Homo sapiens: one gene and its partner. The protein of the gene in region 1 interacts with the protein of each later gene in a pairwise test. Each region holds a gene or a part of one and is shown on either strand. Other genes may lie near its edges.

Region 1 (10,825 bases):
ATATTTCCTACCCTAGCCCTAGACTCAGCCATTTCTCCAAGGAGCTTTGGTTCCTTTTATTGGGGAATGGTTTTAGAAACCGAGATCTGGGAGCTCAGTGTGCACACTAATGCTAGGATGTCATTGCTTTTGGGCATACTAGGCAAACAGAGCTAAGACACACACACACACACACACACAATTTTGACTCTAATCCAGTACCACAATGTTCATTCTAGCTTGCTCACTGTGACTTCTCTCTCCAACAGTGAGAAATCTGGCTCTCACTATCCATGACTCATTTATTCAACCTTAATATGCAGGTAAAGCCATCTCTGACTTGTTAGTGCATATCCCTTGGAGAAACAAATTTACCAACTATAGTACAATGTTTGTGGACAATTCCTTTTATCCTTAGCCTTTCAGTTTCTAGTCATAATATCACTTTCCAAAGTTACTTAGGCCAGTTTGTTTTTTCTCCACATGCTCCAGTGACATTATGTCATACATTTATAGTTCAGTTAGGTCATTTGTTACAAGCTGCATTCCATCCTGGGATTCTCCAGACATCTTGGTTAATTTTTAAATTTCTCATACATTAAAGATCCCCCTTCCTCATGTATGGTTCTATGGGTTTGATCAGGATACAGTCATGTAAGCACTTCCTCAGTATGATACAGAACAGTTCCATCTCCTTAAAATTCTCTCGTGCATCCTCTATGTAGTTAATCTGTCCTTTTCCTCAGCCCCTGGCAACTGCCAATCTGTTTTCCATCCCTACAGTTTTTCATTTTCTGGAATGTAATATAAACAGAACCTTTGGGGATGGCTTTTCACTAGCAAAATGCATTTAAAATCCATCCATGTTATAGTGTGAATCAATAGCTCACTTCCTTTTATTGCCAAATGATTTTCATTGTATGGATACCACAGTGTGTTCATCCATTCATCTGCTTAAAGATATCTTAGTGACTTCACTTTGGGGTAGTTATGAATAAAGCTGCTATACATATTTTTGTATGGACAAAAGTTTCAAATCAGTTGGCTAAATAGCTAGGAGCACAGTTTGCCACATTAAAGCTCAGTAAATTGTTACAAAGTAAACACACTCATCAGCTAGCACAAGCAACAGAACAGCCCTCACCCAGTCGTACATTCCCTCCTCCACAAAAGTCACAATTATCTTCACTTCTGTTGCCACACGTTAATTTTGCCTGGGTTCAAGCTTTGAATGGATCATCTGGTATGTTCTTCTTTGTGTCTGGCTTCTTTCGCTAAGTATCCTCTGTGTTGGTGCATGTGGTGGTTATTTTCATTGTTCTATATCCTTCCATTGCAAATATATATTACAGTTTTGTCTTTAGGTTTTTGCTGGTGGATGTCTGGGTTTTTCCCGGTTTGGATAATGCTATGAACATTCCTTTTTTATTTTTAGACGGAGTCTTGTTCTGTTGCCAGGCTGTAGTGCGGTGGCGCAATCTCGGCTCACTGCAACCTCTGCCTCCCAGGTTCAAGCGATCCTCCTGCCTTGGCCTCTCGAGTAGCTGGGACTACAGGTGTGTGCTACCAAGCCCAGCTAATTTTTTGTATTTTTAGTAGAGATGGGGTTTCATCATGTTGGCCAGGATGGTCTCGATCTCTTGACCTCGTGATCTGCCCTCCTTGGCCACCCAAAGTGCTGGGATTACAGGCGTGAGCCACCACGCCCAGCCAAACATTCCTATGTGCCTTTCTGTATCTACTTCTGTTGCTGGCTCATAGGTAAGTGCATGCTCAGTAATAATAGACATGCTGAACCATTTCCAAAGCATTTCTACCAATTTAGATTACCAATGGTGCCTTATGTTTTAACAGGAGCCCTCTGGCTGCTTCATTGAAAACTGACTGTTTAAGGGCAAAGGTGGGAGCAGGGAGGCCAAGGGAAAGGTTTCGCAGTCATCCATGTGTGACTGCATGGGGCACAGCCCAAAGGGGTAGCAGTGGAAGTAGTGACAAGTGGTTGGATTCTGGTTGTACTTCAAAGGTAGAGTCAACAGGAATTTTCTGATGGATTGGAAATGGAGGATAGAAAAAGCGAATAGACAAAGGTGTGTGGGAGGCATTTTGACTAATCATCTTTATGGATGGAATTGCCATCAACTGAGATTATAAGACTGCTGATGGCCGGGCGCGGTGGCTCACGCCTGTAGTCCCAGCACTTTGGGAGGCCGAGGCGGGCGGATCACGAGGTCAGGAGATCGAGACCATCCCGGCTAAAACGGTGAAACCCCGTCTCTACTAAAAATACAAAAAATTAGCCGGGCGTAGTGGCGGGCGCCTGTAGTCCCAGCTACTAGGGAGGCTGAGGCAGGAGAATGGTGTGAACCCGGGAGGCGGAGCTTGCAGTGAGCCGAGATCGCGCCACTGCACTCCAGCCTGGGCGACAGAGCGAGACTCCGTCTCAAAAAAAAAAAAAAAAAAAAAAAAAAAAAAAAAAAAAAAAAGACTGCTGAGCAGTTGGTTTGAGAGGGAAGATCCTGAGTTCTGTTTGGCACATCACTTTGGAAATGTCTATTAAATATCCAAATGGATATGTCATGGAGGCAGCTGGAGTTCAGGTTAGAGGTCTGAGTCATTGATAAAACTTTGGGAGTTGTTGGCAAATGATAGTGTATTGGTCAGAGTCTAATTAGGAAAGAGAAGCTACACAGTCATTTGAACAGGAAACATGTATATAAAGAAGTGTTAATTGCAACAGGGAAGTGGAGTAACCAGGCACAGACTAGTAGGAAGTATAGGAGGAGCAACCACTAGCCTAGGGCTGAGGTAGAGAGCCCAGGAGAGTCCTCTCCTCCTAGTGCACTGCCCCTACACCTCATCAGAGGAACCCAGCTATGGCCCTCTGCATGTCAGGAGAGTCACTGGTGCTATACCACTGGAACTTACTAGAAATACTTCTTTAGGTGCTGGGGAAAGGAGCGGTGTCTCAAAAGAGTTACTCTATAACAAAACTGCCTGGAGCTGGTGAGGGGAGTGGGACCTGCTGGGCACTGGCCACTGTGTTTCTGGAGAAGTCACCCACCTGCAGGAGCCAGGCCAGGGAGCATAGGAGAACCAGGAACAAAGACTGCTTTCGCCCACAAAGTCTCTCCATTGCTCTCTACTGACAAAACCTAACATAATGTCAGAGGAAAATATTTAAATGGCCCAGTTCCATTTTTGCAGAGCAGGCAATGAAGAATGAGTTTGTAGCAGAGATGCAATAAATTGATAACTGTATTAGTCCGTTCTCTCACTGCTATGAAGAAGTACCTGAGACTAGGCAATTTATAAGAAAAGAGGTTTAATTGGCTCACGATTCTGCAGGCTGTACAGGAAGCATGACAGCTTCTGCGGAGGCCTCAGGAAACTTTCAATCATGGTGGAAGGTGAAGGAGAAGCAGGCATGTCTTACATGGCTGGAGCAGGAAAAGGTGGTGGGGGGAGGTGCTACACACTTTTTAACAACCAGATCTTGTGAGAACTCTATCATGAGAACAGCACTAGATGAATGGTGCTAAACCTTTCATGAAGACTCTGCTCCCATGATCCAATCACCTCCCACCAGGCCCCACCTCCAACATTGGGGATTACAATTCCACACGAAATTTGGGCAGGGACAGACCCAAAACATATCAATAACTGATACAGATGGCATATAAAACTGAGACAGAATTAGATCATCCAGGGAATAAGTATAGACACAGAAGAAAAGAAAACTGAAGCCCGAAACCTATGGCCTCACTCTAATTTAAACAGGTGAGAGCAGGGGAACCAGCAAAAGCAGCTGAGAAAGAGCATCCAGGGCTGCAGGTGGAGTCCTGTGAGACAAGTGAATCAAAGTGAATAGGAGAGGGGCCAGAGTATGTATTGACTGTTCTTTTGTGAAGTTTTGCTGCAAAGGGGAACATAGAAAAGGTGCAGGTCCTGGTATAGGAAATAGGGTCGAGTAATTTCTTTGTTTTGAAGATGAGAGAAATAGCTGCATGTTATGTGACGATGAGAAGAGTCCAGTAGAAAGGAAAATATTGCTGATGTTGCAGAGAGGATAGGCTGGCTGGAGTGACACCCTGGAGCAGTAAGAGATGATGGGATCCAGCAGTCCAGTGCAGGATTCTTTGGGTGGACCTAGCAGTTGTTCATCCACAGTCACAGGGAGGCAATAAGAGGCGGATGGGTGGAGGTGGACGTGGGAGTCTGTGGAAGACTTTTACCACTTCTATTCTCTTAGCAAAGCAGGAGGCAAGGAAGGGAGAGGCAGTGGGAAGGATTGAACAGAGAGGAGGAAGTGCGAAATACTCACTTGGAACAATGGGAGATTGAATAGACCAGGCAAAGAATGATTAAAGTGAGGACGGCTGGCATGGTCCTGTTTTCCTCCAGCCATGTTTAGTTGCATCGTCGTGGCATGGAATAGATGGAGAGCTGGGTTTATCCAGGGCTCCCATCTTACCAAGCAGATAGGAGATGACAGGGAGGTGCATGAGTTGAGGAGGTGTGCAAGGGATCAATGAGAATGGTTGGCCATTGAGTTTAAGCTGGCTCACTAGAGAGGGTCATAAAGGAAGAAACAGTGAACAAGTAGTAAGATCTTGATTGGAGGTGCTGGTAAGGTTGCAGGAGTTTTGTTTCAGGGCAGTATAGGGAGTGACCTGGACAGATAGGAGGATAGATAGACCTGGTCAGAGTGGGATACTGTGGGGGTTGCAGTCCTTGGACCTGACAAGGTCTAAGGTCTGATCATGGAGGGAGGGGGAAGCTGAGGTAGGGCAGAGGACAGGAGTGGGCTTCATGAGACCAAAAGGATGTTGGAAGGATTATCTACCTGGATACTGAAATCTTCAAGAAGTAAGAGGTGTAGTGTGAAGAAGTTACAACACTCTAAGCTCTTCAGGGATAAGGGAAGCATGTGCCACGTGGGTAGCCTCCCAAGTCCAGCACCCAGTATCTAGAATATGCAGAGTGAATACCTGGGGGCTGCTGAGGGCAAGAACAAGGTGCCTGTGAGAAGACCTGACGCCTGGGGTTCTCGTGACAGGAGTGGGCCTAGTTTTTGGTGTAGAATTGAGCCTTGAATGCACCAGCGGGATCATATTGAAAAGAAACCCTCCAAGACTAAAGGAAGATGCATCCTCTGACAATGTACGCTCTGTAGGCTCCCAAGTAGCTGGGCTGGGGATTAGATGGACTCCAAGGCATTTCCTCAGGTGGCAATGGGCGGATCCCTGGGAAGGTAAAGCTGTGCAGTAAGAAAACGGCAAGATGCTACGTTCACTCAGGTAAAGCCCCTTTCCCGGGTTTAGGGAGGGCGAGGCAGTTTAGGCTGGGTCAGTTTGTCCCTGCCCTCACGGTTTGTTGGTCCTGGCAAAAGAGGGCCTTATGTTATTTATTTTTCTTAGAGACAGTGTCTTGCTCTGTTGCCCAGGCTGAAGTCCAGTGGCTCATCTCAGTTCACTGCAGACTCCGCCTCCTGGGATCAAGCGATCCTCCCACCTCAGCCTCCAGAGTAGCTGGGACCACAAGCACCACAGGCGCCCGGCACGATGCCGGCTAATTTTTTTTTTTTTTTTTTTTAAGAGAGAGAGGTAGGCTCCCTATGTTGCCCAGGCTTGTCTTGAATTCCTGGGCTCAAGCAATCCTCCCTCCTCGGCTTCCCAAAGTGTAGGGATTACAGGCGTGAGCCACTGCGCCCTGCCAAAAGAGGGCTTTAGGGCACCCCAGAACGCGAGATCCCCCTCATCTGTAATCTTTAAAGAGGAGGAAGTGTACTCCAAATCAAGCGATAGTCCATTCGTCCTTGGCACGGTGACTGCCGGGAGGCCAGGACCAAATGTGTCTCCTTCCGGCTTTTGCACCACACTAACTAACCGGCGCCAGGCCGCAGAGCCGCCCTGGCCTTCGGCGAGAACTCAGGCGAGCGCGGCGCACGCTGCTCCGGAGTCCCACCGCGGAAGTTGAGGCCGCGGATTCCGAGGGCGGGGTGGAGAGGAATCTGGAAGGACCTGGACCCGGTGGAACGCACTGCGCGGACGGCGCCTGCGTCCGCACTCAGCTGTTCAGCCCTCTTTCTTCAGGCTCTCCCCTGAAAGCCGTCCCCATGCCGGTCTCTTTTTTCTGCCTTCTTGTTTCCCTCCGGCGAGTCAGCGCGACTGTGAATTTCCGTTTCCGGCGGTGTCCATGCTGACCTGAGGAGTCGCGGCTGCGAGCAGGTTCGGTGCTGCGGGTTGGGGTAGGCGGCGGTGGGGTCCCTGGTTCTGGGGCACTGGGAAGATCGCGAGTCGTGCGTGTGGGAAGGTCCTCCCCCGGTCCTCCGGGTCATCTTTGCTCCCGAGGAGCGGCATATTTCTCATCTGGCGGAGGTGTCCTGGGGTAGTTGGGTGAGTGACGTGATGAATCCCTGCAGAGAGCCCAGACGGGGAGGGAAGGTGGCTGGGCGACGTCGTTTCCTGGCGACGTGGTCCCGGTAGGAGACTTAGACCTGAGCTGGATCTGTTGACCCCAAATTGTGCTTTTCCCACCAAGAAGAAAGACAGGGAGAGAAACATTAGTACAAGTGCTGAACTAAAATATAGCAGAGAAGAAACATAATCTCTGAAATCACACAGCTATTCGGTTTCAAAGCGTTCCTAGCGCCCAGCTCTCCTAACTCCTGGCCAGTGTTCTTGACATTATGGTAATACATAAAGACTTTGTTTCCGCTGGTGTGTGTCTGTGGGAAGCCTCTGACTCACCTCCGTGCTCCAGTAGCACCCTGTGCAGCCTTCCAATGTCGCCCTTATTGCGTGGCGCGGAAGATAATAGTTTGGATTTCCTCTGCAAGTCAGATAATAGCTGTATCCACTTACTGGCACAGTGCCTAGCACATCGTAGACAGACACAAATATTTATTCAACGGAATGAATACAGTACCTTAATTGAATGAAATGGCATCCTGCTCCGCTTTTTTTTTTTAATCAAGCTGTCAGATTTTATGCAGCCCGATTTCCTAAAATAACTCACTAATTCAGTGATTGCCAATTTATTAGCCACAGATTCCCAGGTAACTCAGAAATCACTGGAAGGGTCTCTGTAAGTTCATGGGGTCTCCAGGTGTCATCTAGAACCAGTCCTATCTCACACGTACAGCTATTTCTATTTTTCAAATGTATGTAGATAAGTTGTAATTTAGGAGTTTTACAGAGTCAACAGGTACTAAAAGTAATACTGCGATCATATTGGAGGTTCATAAAAACGTTTCACATTTTTTTATTAAAATTTAAGTTTTAGTTTAAGTTAGGAAACCACTTCATCAGTCCAGTTGATACCTGGGTCTGAGCTGTCCAGTATGGTAGCCACATGTGACTATTTGGAGTTAGAATGAAATTAATTAAAAACTCATTTTTTCAGTTTCCCTAAGTATATTGTAAGTAACCACATGTGGCTAATGGCTAAATGGCTGAAAAGTACAGATATAGTATATTTCTATCCTTGCAGAAATAGATACTGCTGATGTTGACACTTAAGATGAATAAAAAGTAACTTAACCATAAAATGTAATCTTAAGAGAGGTAACTCATCTAATTTATAGCATAACAGAGAGAAATGAAATTGGGGATGGTTAAGCAGTTTCTACCCTTGTTCAGTGAACAAATACATCATCTCTTCATAAAGAAATAAATGAAATTTACTGTTTTTCCCTGGGTATTGCCTGGATTGTAAAATGCTTCTCCCATCTCCTTACCCCAACCTTCTTCCTTGTAGGTTAGAGTTACTTGTTATTGGTAAATAGCCACTATGGAGGCTAAGGACCAGAAGAAACACAGAAAGAAAAACAGTGGACCCAAAGCTGCAAAGAAAAAGAAGCGGCTTCTGCAGGATCTCCAGCTAGGAGACGAAGAAGATGCCCGGAAGAGAAATCCCAAAGCTTTTGCAGTTCAGTCTGCTGTGCGGATGGCTCGATCCTTTCACAGGTATGTTAGGCTACGGTCTGGTCATTCTTCCATTGATTCTTTTTTTAAATAGTAGGAGCCTCTCACAGGTGACATTTGGATTCACGAGTCTAGTCCAGCTCCAAAGGACATGGAGATTCATGGTGTGTGGCTTTCACTAAAACGTGAGAAGCTTTTCCCATAGAAGCTGCCTTGCCTCCAGCATCTGCATACTGGTTAGTGTTTATTGCCCAGGATACAAGAATTTATAGACTTTGTTTGTTCCTAAATTTTAAACTGTTTCTATGGTGATAAGTGTGCTTTTTCCCCCCAGGTATGTTTTACATAGTTGTAATATAAAATACAAAAATTACAATATTTAATACTAACATAGCTTTATTTAGTGAGCCCTTGTGATATGCCTAGCAGTGTACTTTAAACATTATTCAACTAAATCCTTCCAGCAGCCTTACCAGAGTAGGAATCATTCTTGCCCTCATTTTATGGGTAAGAAAACTGAGATCAAGAAAACAAGTTACCTCCAATCATATAACCAGTAAGTAGGAGAGCTAAATGTAACTCCAGCGCCTCTGCTCTTATCTGCTATGATGTACTGCCTCGCTATTTACCTTTTGGTTTTTTAAAAAACTATTAAAATCACTCTTAAAACAGTCAGATTTAAGGAGTGTTTAATTTTCGCTCTCTATAGTATTGAAGTCATCTTGTTACATCTTTATTGAACAGCAATTATTTGGATGGGGCCAGAAGTTAGCAAGTTAATAATTGACAAGTTAATTATATTTATATATTGTCTGTTGTACTCTCTATAAAATGTGCTAAAGTACTCATAGCTATAAGTGTACCAAAAAAGTCTACTTATAAGGTTGATACCTTTTACTCTATTTTGAAAATGAGTTTACTATTTATTTATTTGTTTATTTTTTAATGAATAGGACTCAGGATTTGAAGACAAAAAAGCATCATATTCCAGTGGTTGATCGAACTCCACTAGAGCCCCCACCAATAGTGGTAGTGGTGATGGGACCTCCAAAAGTTGGAAAGAGCACTTTGATACAATGCCTCATTCGGAACTTTACCCGGCAGAAGTTGACTGAGATCAGAGGCCCTGTGACGATTGTGTCAGGTAGGAGATGCCACCACAGACACAGAGTTGGCGTGGCTGTTGTCATCTGAGGGACATGCATGCGTTTGTTGTTTTCTTGAGTGGAACATGTTAAATATTGTCATATCATGGGACTTCTCTTATACTTAGTATTACTAAGTTGGCTATAGCTTCAGAAAAGGGTAAGTTCCCAGAGATAAGGATGTGATAATGTTCACATTTCCTCCCAGCACTCTGGGAGGTTCCAAGGCAGGAAGATACTCGAACCCAGCACTCGGGCTGGAAAATCAAGCTTTGCTGCTCGATTGCGACACCAGCCACAGTCCTCTTCCTCCGTGTAGAAGGATGTGTGGTCCAGCCTCTTAAGGTGATGCTTTCCTTTTCTTCCTGGTTTCCTCCTCCATTTTTTGTATGAGAAATGATAATGTTCACTATGTCTTATCCTGACTGCTCTTTGGCTTTGCCAAACATGTTCCTTGGAAGGGCCTAGCAGGCCTAGTCACCGTGAACACATCATTTAACAGATAGCACGCACCTCCTATGTGCCAGGTGCATATGCTTGCCTTATGAAGCCACATTCTGGTGGAAGTGCGAGTTTTCTCTTTTTCCTGTGAGAATTGTCTGCTTTGGGAGATGGTGACCTTTCCGAGTTTGAGGGAAAATGAAACAAACTTCCAGTGGTAGAATGGCAATGTACACTCTGAAATCTCTTGTTATTGCAATAATATAGTTGGATTGAGGCTTTTCTTTATCTTTGGAGCATCCATATTTTCTTTTCCCTTTTTTGAGACAGAGTCTTACTCTGTGGTACAGGCTGGAGTGCAGTGGTGTGATTACGGCTCACTGCAGCCTCTACCTCCCAGGTTCAAGCATTCCTCCTACCTTAGCCTCCTGAGTAGTGTATGCCACCACGCCTGGCTAATTTTTCTTTTTTTTCCTTTTTTTTTTTTTTCTGTAGAGATGGGGTTTCCCCATATGGCCCAGGCTGGTCTCAAAACTCCTGGGCTCAAGGGATCCGCCTGCCTTGGCCTCCCAAGTTGCTGGGACTACAGGCGAGAGCTACTGTGCCCAGCCCATATTTTCTTGACTGTTTTATTTTTACCTTAATTTAGAAGTAATTATTGTTATGAATATTCTGTTGCATTATGTTTGAGGATGTTTGTAGCTCTAGTGGGAATACGGGAAGTTTTGATAGAGGCAAAGACATTGGGCCTGCAGCTGAACAGCAGGATCATGGTTATCATGGAGTCTGTGCAGTCAGAATTTTCCCTTTTTGAGCACTTTTATTCATCTGGGTAGACTTTTGATGTTATTTAAATTTAGAACACAGCAAGAAAAACAGAATGGAATTTATTTTATTTTATCAGTTTTTGCCTGTAAAAATGAACTTCTTGTATGCTCCTGTAAATGTATATGATGTTTTACTGGATGCAGTTAAAAAATGAAAATTAAGAGTTGATGGTTAGAGTTTTTTCAGGGTCTTTTTAAAGTAAAATTTTCATCTTTTCACTTATAGGTAAAAAGCGCAGACTCACCATTATTGAATGTGGGTGTGACATTAACATGATGATTGATCTGGCTAAAGTAGCAGATCTGGTAAGTGAGCAGGGGCAGCCTGGGGTGCTGATGGAGACTTACAGCATTGTGATAGGTTATTTACCCCGTGATGAAGGGAAGAGAGTCTTATAATTATTAAAAGAATCATGGTCATCATCAGTGATACGGTAGATATGATTGAATTGATGATAATTATGGTAATAAATGTTGTTATGTTAATAATAAAAATGGAATGTGCACA
Region 2 (10,714 bases), on another chromosome or scaffold:
CGTTTGTCTTCACCAACTATCTTACCTAACTACGGGTTGGCTTTTTTACCTTGAGTAAAACAGCAGCAACAAGAAAAAATATTTACTTCCTCTTCAATGAAAGGAAGAGTACAATGAGATAAACTTAATTGTTCATGTTCCTCAAAACGGAAGCATAAATTATACATGTGGCTGGACAATTATAATCACCAGCCCGGGACCATCCTTCTTTGGGGTTCAGATTCCTTTCAGTATTTACAACCCCTTTGCAATGGAAGGGGACAGTTTTAAGAGATTCAATGATTTGCCTGAAGTCACAGAGTTTGATCTGTGTCTCATTTGTTTCTAAATCCTTGTGTAGTCTTCTTGGTGTCACATGCTGCTATTCCTAATCATTAGGGATACAGGGAAAAGAAAAGGTTTAATTACTACTGTCAAGTAGGCCAGGGTTTTTCTACATCAGCACTACTGACATTTTGAATGGATAATTCTTTGTTGTGGGAGGCTGTCCTGTAGGATATTTAGCAGCACCCTTGGATTCTAACCACTAGAGGCCAGTAGCATTCCCCTCTGCCAAGCTGTGACAACCAAAAATGTCTCCAAATGCTCCCAAATGTCCCCCACTGAACAAAAGTGCCCCTGGTTGAAAACTACTGTGCTTTACATATAACATAGAAATACGTGGAAACAACCACCTAGGAGAAGAACTTTACAGAAGGCATAATTCTCTTCAAATATCTGAAAAATTTCCATATAGAAGCAGGAACGGATTTGGCATGCCAGGGAGCAGACCTATACCCAGTGGGTTCAAGCTACATAATAATAAAATCAGCTAACATTTATTCTTCCTATGTGCCAGGCACTGTTCAGTACACTTTGAAGTATTATTTCATTTAGTCCTCACAATAACCCTGTGAAGTCAGTAGTACTGGCCCCACTTTACAGGTGAAAAAGTTGAGGCTCAGAAGAGAATAGTTAAAATAATTTGCCCAAGGACCAAGAGCTAATAGCGAAAGGCAGAACTCGTACTCAAACCAAGGTCCAATACTGACCCCAAGCTCTTAATTGCCAAGTATTATGACCATGACAAATTAAGGATTTTACCTCAGTAAAATAAAGAAAATAAAGAACTTTTTGACTTAAAAACTGTTTCTTTCATATGGAGATTTCTCAAAGAACTAAAAATAGAACTACCATATGGCCCAGCAATTCCACTACTGGGTATCTACCCAGAGGAAAAGACATCATTATACAAAAAAGGCACCTGTACTTGTATGTTTATTGCAGCACTATTCACAATACCAAAGTGATGGAACTAACCTAAGTGTCCACCAATGGTTGACTAGATAAAGAAAATGTGGTATATATACACTATGGAATACTACACAGCCATAAAAAAGAATGAAATCAGGCTGGGCATGGTTATTCATGCCTGTAATCCCAGCAATTTGGAAGGCTGAGGCAGGACGACTGCTTGAGTCCAGGAGTTCAAGACCAGCCTCGGCAACATAGACAACACCCCATCTCTACAAAAAAAATTTTAAAAATCAACTAGATGCTGTGGTACACATCTGTAGTTCCAGCTACTCAGGAAGCTAACGTGAGAGGATCACCTGAGCCCAAGAGGTTGAGGCTACAGTGAGCCATGATCACACCACTGCACTCATGACAGAGTGAGACTCTGTCTCAAAAAAAAGAATGAAATAATGTCCTTTGCAACAACATGGAGCTAGAGGCCATTATCCTAAGAGAACTAATTCAGAAACAGAAAATCAAATACTCCATGTTCTTACTTATAAGTGGGAGCTGAACAATGGATACACATGGACTTAAACATGGAAATAACAAACATTGGGGACTGGAAAAGGAGGAAGATTGAGGGAGATTGAAAAATTACCTATTGGGTACGATGTTCACTATTTGGATAATGGGTACACCAGAAGCCCAGTCCCCACCAGTAGGCAATATATCCATGTAACAAACATGCACATGTACCCCCGACTCTAAAATAAAATTTCTTTAAAAAAAGAACTGTTTATTTTGCAAACAATGATTTCCGCAGCCACCATCTCAATCCTATCTGTCCAGATCAGGTCCAGAAAACCTGCCTTCCTTCGTAACTTTCAGGGAAGTGTCTGCTCTGAACTCCACTGAGCCCCTGTACAATACTCAATCCTTCCTACTTCAAGTTACTCAAACTTAGTAACATCCTACTTACATGACAAGCTCCATGAGAACAGGGGCAACCAGCTTCTCACATATATTACACTCACCCCCATACAAAGCCTTGCACATACTGTGGCTCAATAAACACTTTCTAAATAAATGTTCCTGAGGCCGAAAGCCTCCCATACTATCCCTACCCTCCAAAGCCCACACCATGAGGGATGTTTTAAGCAAGCACCTTGAAGAGATGTGATTCTTGCATTAGAACTGAAGATTTTATTGGATATGCTCTGAGTTTTTTCCAACTCTGAGAATCTGAGTTAGGAAAAGTCAGAAAGGGACAGATGACGGGCAACATAGGCTTCCGGCTACATCTTCAATCAAGCTACCAAGGACTCCCTTGATTATGACCAGAAATCATGTGTCAGGGACTACATCTATTTATGCGTGCACGTATATGTATATACACTTACATGTATGTGTATACATATACACATATACATGTATATCTGCAAATGCATATCTATCTCTCTGTTCCCTCTGTAAGAAATTAAGCAGACAGGCTGGGCGCAGCGGCTCACACCTGTAATCCCAGCACTCTGGGAGGCCAAGGCAGGCGGATCACCTGAGGTCAGCAGTTTCATACAGCCTGGCCAACATGGTGAAACCCCATCTCTACTAAAAATACTCTACTAAAAATTAGCTGGGCATGGTGGCAGGCACCTGTAATCCCAGCTACGAGGGAGGCTGAGGCAGGAGAATTGCAGGAACCCAGGAGGCGGAGGTTGCAGTGAGCCGAGATCGCACCACGGCACTCCAGCCTGGGAGACAGAGTAAGACTCTGTCTCAAAAAAAAAGAAAGAAATTAAGCAGACAAACATCTACAAGGTTTCTGAGGCCCTGAAGCCAGCGCAAGGATGTACAAATAACTAGGAGTCTCTTTCTTCCCCTGGTATATGAACGGGGTAAGGCAAATAATGCTCTACAGTAATGTTCCCCATAAAATACCAGCACACCTGCCAAGCAGTTCTACCTCCCTCAGGTATCAGCGTCTGACACCCTTTCAAGAAAGTGCCAAGTGGCCAAGCCCTGTTCTTGGAAGAAACGGGAGCTCATATGTGTGAGATGCTTTGAAGAGATGCTCACATACAGTGGAGGGGGAGAAGGAGAAGCATACTTTGGAACATTAAATATTAAATTGGAGGCCACCTGTCAATAGAAAAACTCTAAATAGAACTAGATTCATTTTAGAGAACCCAGGTTTCCAGGCTATACTTCCATTTCTCTGGAAAAAAAAAAAAAAGTTATGCCTACTTTTATACAAAGTAGAAGTCCATCTTCTTACCATATCCAGCTAGTGGCAAGTTCTCTGAGCTAACCTGAGGGTAAAGTGGATGGAGAGCTGGCTGAGAATGCCACACAGCAATCAAGCAAACACTTTGCCCAAGGGTCAAACTAAGTGGAACACTTGTTGACGGAAAAGTCGTGGCATAAACCATTTGTGGTCTCTCCCTAACTTTCTCAGTGTTTTTGAGCAGTAGAGAGAGGACAGGAACCACCAACACAAGTTTTTCCTACCATCACTAGGTTTCTCACCACTGTACCTGGGATATTCTGCTTCTTTCCTTCCTAACCTATCTCCGTCAATAGCATGGCATCTTCTGCCCTTTATGTGCAGCCAATCACCACCCAAGAGAGGCAGAGATCTAACTATCCAAAAAATGCATTCAGACAGATAAAACAAGAGCCAGTGCAAAATGAAACACATCAGCGCCGCTCAGGAAGCTTCCAGGACCAACCACAAACACTCTTTTTCAATTTACAGACAGGTTTTTTCCTTTTTCACCTGACTACTGACTCGCCCAACTTGGGATAACCACCAGTCAGAAGCTTTTAAATGCATGTATCTCATGCCAGGGGGCCAGGTGTAAACCAAGGCCAGTTGAAAACCGGCGCCATTTAATGAGATGTGGGTTTAAATGGGCCTATTTCTTTTTAACCTACCATTGCAGAGCAAGAAGTGAGCTTGGAAGCCTGCAGTTTAGCGATTGTCACCGACCCCTTTTCTAAAGTCAAGGCAATTAGGCCCATGACTGTTAAAAGTCTATCTCAAAGCTCCTGTCCTGCGCACATCAATCACAGTCACGGCTGAAAACAAACACAGAATTTTAAAAATTTCTTTATCCACACCCAAGGACAAGTGTGAGGGCAGCCGAGAAATCATGGCGACAGGAACAGCCGGTGTCCAAGGGGGCAGCTGCTTCTGAGAACTGCTTTGAGACAGGGCAGAGAACCAACCCAAGGTACTTTTCTCTCCCAATGTCTCTCCCCCGGCTCATTCACCATATTTCGGTCCAACAAACTGTTTTTCTCCTTTGAGAGGTTTATGGCGAGGGCAAGAGGGGCCGAAGGGACGCGAAGGGGCGACGCCAGGGATTTGTTGCTACACGTAAAGCTGGAAAACGTGCAGCTGTTTACTACCAGCGCCCCGGAGACGCCGAGCGCAGCTTGCAGCTGAGCGCTCCCCTCGGGCCCCGACCCCGCCTCCCCCACTGTGCCTGCCCCTCCGGCTTTGGAGGCGACGCGCCACCTGCCCTCCCCGACGCGCTCGCCGGACGCCGAGCCGCCCAACCAACACCGCGCGGGCCCCCACGGCATCAGCTCGGTCTCCCCTCAGCCCCCGCGCCCACGCCGCGCGCCGCCCACACCAAGTTACCTCGGAGGCCCGGGTTGTCGTCTCTGGCCCGAATCTTTCGGATTTTGACGGGGCGCCCGCTCAGGGTAGACAGGACCAGACGTTGGCGCAAGAAGTTGCACCCTGCGTAGCTGAGGGAGTGCGCCTGAGTCGCCATGTGCGCGCTCTCCGAAGAGACGTGAGCAGCCCGAGAGCGGCGACTTCGGACAGACGCGGGACTCGTGACTCCGATGGTGGTGGTGGCGGCGACACCGACGGCGGCGGCTCGGGCTGCCTCCAGCAGCCCAGACGCGTCCACGTGGTTTGGAACAGGAAGACGGAGAGACTAGACACCGGGTCAGAGGGGAGCGGGGCGGAGCCAGTGGCCACCTCCCCGCCTCCCCGCCCGACCGGGGCGGCCCCCGCTTCGGGCCACGCCGCTATTGGCCCGCGCCGGATCAGGGCGGTGCCCGCGCCGCGCCTCCATTGGCTTCCGCTGAAGCTGGGCGGTGCCCAAGCCGCGCTGCCATTGGTCCGTAGTGGAGCTGGGCGGTGCCCGGGCCCTGGCAACAGCGCGCGGCTGGAGGGAACGCGGGAGGATGGCCAGGGAACCCCGGCGCGGGAGTTGCCAGTCGGGGCAGTCTCCTCTGTGTACCTCCTGGCGTGGTAGCAAGGGGAGATGGCGGACTGAGATTGATGCCTACGACGTGCCGGATTCTTAGCATTACTACTTACGGCAACTACTGGGGTGAAGATGCTATTATCTACCCCTCCTCTTTCTTACTAAGAGAGACAACAAGGGTTGGTGCACTCACCCTATCGCAGGGATGCCGCTCAGCGCACTGCCGGCGCAGTCCCGCAGCTCCATGCTGTAACCCTGCAAGGTAGAGCCATCCTGTCCTACTCATGGATAAAGGCTCGAGGAATATTGCAAAGCTGACAGTGGCAGCCTATACTGAGACCCGAATCCTCCCACAGCAGGCCGTTGCTTATTTTATTGAGACACCTCTTTGCCCCTTTCTCACGGGTCCCTTCGTTTATCGTCATTGCGTTTCATGGCAATTCAGGCCCTCCTACCTCGCATGCTTCAAGATAGATAGTTGTAATAACTTCACACACACACACGCGCGCAATGCTTTTTCCCTCTTTCCCGTCCTCCTCCAATCCTGCACAAGAAAATCTTCCCAAACGTTGGATTATTTCACTTCTCTACTCAAAAACCTTCCAAAATGTACAGTTAACTAACAAATGACTACACAAGTAGAAGTCCGATATCATAGTAATGTGGGTTTGTAGCCATTCCTGGACAACACTCACCAAACCATGAGTCCCAGAATGCACGGGGGTTCGCGGGGGGAAGGGGGGCGGGGTATGATAGTGTCTGAAAGCGGTGGGAGTTTAAGATTAAGGGATGTAGCTAGCCTTATGTAGACAACAGTGTGTTATAAAGTGGAGTGGAGTGGCATGCTCATGACTCACTGCAGCCTCAACTTCCCGAGTTCTAGTAATCCTCCAACCTCAGCCTCCCCATTAGCTGGAACTACAGGTGTGCACCACCATGCTCAGCTAATTTTTGTATTTTGTATAGACATGGGTTTTTGCCATGTTACCCAGGCTGGTCTCAAACTTCTAACCTCAAGCGATTGGCCCACCTTGGCCTCACAAGTGTGAGCCACCACTCCCAGCCTTTAATCCATTTTTCTTTGATTTTTGTAAATGGCAAGAGATAGAGATCTAGTTTCACTCTTTTGCATATGGATATCCAATTTTCTCAGCATCATTTATTGAAGAGACTGTCCTTTCCCCAGAGTATGTTCTTGGCAACTTTGTCGAAAATGAGTTTACCGTAGCTGTGTGGATTTATCTCTGCGTTCTCCGCTCTGTTCTACTGATCTATGTGTCTGTTTTTATGCCAGTACCATGCCATTTTGTTTACTCTAGCTCTGTAGTATAATTTGAAGTCAGGTAATGTGATTCCTCCAGTTTTGTTCTTTTTGCTTAGGACAGGTTTGGCTATTCTGGGTCTTTTGTGGTTCCATATAATTTTTTTAATTTTTAATTTTTGTAGGTAGATGGTACATGTATATATGAGGTACGGGAGAAGTTTTGATACAGGCATGCAATGTGTGATAATCACATCCTGAAGGATAGGGTACTCATCCCCTCATGCATTTTATTCTTTGTGTTATTATACAAACAAAACAATTATACTGTTTTAGTTATTTTTAAATGAAAATTAAATTATTGTTGACTACAGACACCTTGTTGTGCTATCAAATAGTAGATCTTATTCTTTCTAATTTTTGTACACATTTATTATCCCCACCTGCCCCCCAACATCCCCACCCCCTCTATGTTTTCCAGTCTCTAGTAACCATCCTTCTACTCTCTATTTCCATGAGTTAAATTGTTTTGATTGTTTGATCCCACAAATAGGTGAGAACATGTGATGTTTTTCTTTCTGTGCCTGGCTTATTTCACTTAACATAATGATCTCCAGTTTCATCCATGTTGTTGCAAATGACAGGATTTCATTCTTTTTTATGGCTGAATAATACTATATTGTGTATATGTATCACATTTTCTTTATCCATTCATCTGTTGATGGACACTTTGACTGTTTTCAAATTTTAGCTATTGTGAAGAGTGCTGCAACAAACATGGGAGTGCAGATATTTCTTTGATATGCTGATTTCCTTTCTTTTGGGTATACACGCAGCAGTGGGATTGCTGAATCATATGGTAGCTCTATTTTTAGTTTTTTGAGGCACCTCCAAACTGTTCTCCATAGTGGTTGCACGAATTTACATTCCCACCAACAGTGTACAAGGGTTCCATTTTCTCCACATCCTCACCAGTATTTGTTATCGCCTGTCTTTTGAATATAAGCCATCTTAACTGGGATGAGATGATATCTCAAAATGAGTAGTTTGCAGATATGTTTTCTCACTCTTTGGGTTGTCTCTTCAGTTTGTTGATTGTTTCCTTTGCTGTGCAGAAGCTTTTTAACTTGATATGATCCCATTTTTGCTTTGGTTGCGTATGCTTGTGGGTTATTAATCAAGAAATTTTTGCCTAACCAATGTCCTAGAGATTTTCCCCAATATTTTCTGTAGCCATTTCATAGTTTGAGGTCTTAGATATAAGTCTTTAATCCATTTTGATTTGGTTTTTGTACACGGCAAGAGAAAGCAGTCTAGTTTTACTCTTCTGCATATGGATATCCAGGTCTCCCAGCACCATTTATTGAAGAGATTGTTTTTTCCCCAGTGTATGTTATTGGCACCTTTATTGAAAATGAGTTCACTGTAGGGTTATAGATTTGTTTTTGGGTTCTCTATTCTGTTCCACTGGTCCATTTGTCTGTTTTTATGCGAGTACCATGCCATTTTGGTTACTATAGTATTTTTTTTTAATTTTTCTTTTTTTTTTTTTTTTTTTTTGAGACAGAGTCTCACTCTGTCACCCAGGCTGGAGTGCAGTGGCATGATCTCAGCTCACTGCAACCTCCACCTCCTACGTTCAAGCGATTCTCATGTTTCAGCCTTCTGAGTAGCTGAGATTACAGGCATGCACCAACACATCCAGCTAATTGTAGTATAATTTGAAATCAGGTAATGTGATTCCTCCAGTTTTGTTCTTTTTCTTAGGATAGCTTTGGCTATTCTGGGTCTTTTGTGGTTTTATATAAATTTTAGGATTTTTTTTCTATATCTGTGAAGAATATTATTGGTATTTTAATAGAGACTGCTTTGGGTAGTATGGATATTTTACCAATGTTGATTCTTCCAACCTGTCAACATAAAATACCTTACTATTTTTTGTGGCCTCTTCAAAATCTTACATCAATATTTTATAGTTATCATTGTAGAGATCTTTCACTTCTTAAGTTCATTTCTAGGTATTTTATTTTCTTTTTAGCTATTGTAAATGGGATCACTTTCTTGATTTCTTTTTTGGATTGTTCATTGTTGGCATAGAGAAATACTACTGATTTTTGTGTGTTAATTTTGTATCCTGCAAATTTACTGAATTTGTTTATTAGTTCTAATATTTATTTGGTGGACTTTGGGTTTTTCTAAATATAAAATTATATCATCTAAAAACAAGGAAAATTTTTTCTTCTTTCTTTCCCCTCCCTCCCTCCCGTCCTTCCTTCCTTCCTTCCTTTTCTTTCTTTTCTTTCTTTCTTTTTTCTTTCCCCCCGCCTTTTTTTTTTTTTTTTTTTTTGAGACAGGATCTCACTCGGTCACCCAGGCTGGAGTGCAGTGGCATGATCATGGCTCACTGAAGCCTCAACGCCCCAGGCCCAAGTGATCCTCCCACTTCAGCCTCCCTGGTAGCTGGGACTACAGGCATGTACAGGCATGCTCCATCACACTCAGCTAATTTTTTAATTTTTTTGTAGAGATGATATTTCACTGTGTTGCCCATGCTTGTCTCAAAGCAATCTGCCTGCCTCGGCCTCCCAAAGTTCCGAGATTACAGGCATGAGCCACCCACACCCAAGGGTAATTAAATTTCTTCATTTCCTATTTGAATCCCCTTTATTTCTTTCGCTTGTCCAATTGCTGTAGCTGCAAACTTCCAGTACTATGTTGAATAAGAGTGGTGAAAGTGGGAATCCTTGTCATGTTCTGATCAAAGAAGAAAGGTGGCCAGTGTGGTGGCTCACACTTGTAATCCTAGCACTTTGGGAGGCTAAGGCGGGCAGATCACCTAAGGCTAGGAGTTTGAGACCAGCTTGGCCAACACGGTGAAACTCCATTTGGGTGTGGTAGCATGCACCTGTAATCCCAGCTACTGGTGAGGCTGAGACATGAGAATTGTTTGCATCTGGGAGGCAGAGGTTGCAGCGAGCTGAGATCGCACCACTGTACTCCAGGCTAGGTGACAGAGCAAGACTGTGTCTCAAAAAAAAAAAAAAAGATGAAAGGCTTTCAGTTTTTCCCCATTCAGTATGATATTAGCTGTGGGTATATCATATGTGGCTTTTATTATATTGAGGGATGTCTTTCTATACTCAGTATTGTTAGGGCTTTTATGAGGAAGCGATACTGGATTTTATCAAGTGCTTTTTCAGCATCAATTGAAATGATCATTTGATCATTTTTGTCCTTCATTCTCTTGCTATGATGTATTACATTACTTAATTTGCATATGTTGAACCACCCTTGCATCCCTGGGATGAATCACACTTGGTCATGATGAATGATCTTTTTAATGTGTTGTTGAATTCAGTTTCATTGAGAATTTTTGGATCAGTATTCATCAGAAACATTGGCTTGAAGTTTGCTTTATTTGATGTGTCTTTGTCTGTTTTTGGTATCAGGGTAGTACTGATCTCATAGAATGAGTTTGGAAGTATTCCCTTCTTCTCTATTTTTTGGAATAGTGTAAGTAGAATTGGTATTAGTTCTTCTTTAAATGTTTGGTAGAATTCAGCAGCAAAACCATCAGGTCCTGGGCTTTACTTTGCTGGGAGAGTGTTTATTAATTCTATATCATTACTTGTTATTGATTTGTTCAGCAGTGAAACCATCAGGTCCTGGGCTTTACTTTGCTGGGAGACTTTTTATTAGTTCTATATCACTACTTCTTATTGATTTGTTCAGGTTTTGCATTTCTTCATAGTTCAGTTTTGGTAGGGTGTATGTGTCCAAGAATTTATCCCTTTCTTTTAGATTTTTCAATTTGTTGGTATATAGTCACTCATCATAGCCACTAATGATGCTTTGAATTTCTGCAGTGTCAGTGGTAATGTCTCTTTTTTCATCTCTAATTTTATTTATTTGTGTCTTCTCTCTCTTTTTTAGTTAGTCTAGATAAAGGTTTGTCAATTTTGTTTATGTTTTCAAAACACCAACTTTTTGTTTTCTTGATCTTTTGTTTGTT

What was found.
Region 2: the proteins of BMS1 (region 1) and RCL1 interact in binary tests that used the Homo sapiens proteins (3 or more experiments, as listed by UniProt).

The regions. Positions count from the first base shown.
Region 1 is NC_000010.11:42,776,625-42,787,449, forward strand, and holds the start of BMS1 (ribosome biogenesis protein BMS1 homolog), read left to right. Parts: upstream 1-6,170; 5' UTR 6,171-6,206; exon of another isoform or gene 6,207-6,374; intron 6,375-7,737; 5' UTR 7,738-7,770; coding exon 7,771-7,946; intron 7,947-8,857; coding exon 8,858-9,048; intron 9,049-10,543; coding exon 10,544-10,623; intron 10,624-10,825. UniProt on the Homo sapiens protein: GTPase required for the synthesis of 40S ribosomal subunits and for processing of pre-ribosomal RNA (pre-rRNA) at sites A0, A1, and A2.
Region 2 is NC_000009.12:4,787,375-4,798,088, reverse strand, and holds the start of RCL1 (RNA 3'-terminal phosphate cyclase-like protein), read right to left. Parts: upstream 5,146-10,714; 5' UTR 4,998-5,145; coding exon 4,862-4,997; intron 1-4,861. UniProt on the Homo sapiens protein: As part of the small subunit (SSU) processome, it plays a role in 40S-ribosomal-subunit biogenesis in the early pre-rRNA processing steps at sites A0, A1 and A2 that are required for proper maturation of the 18S RNA.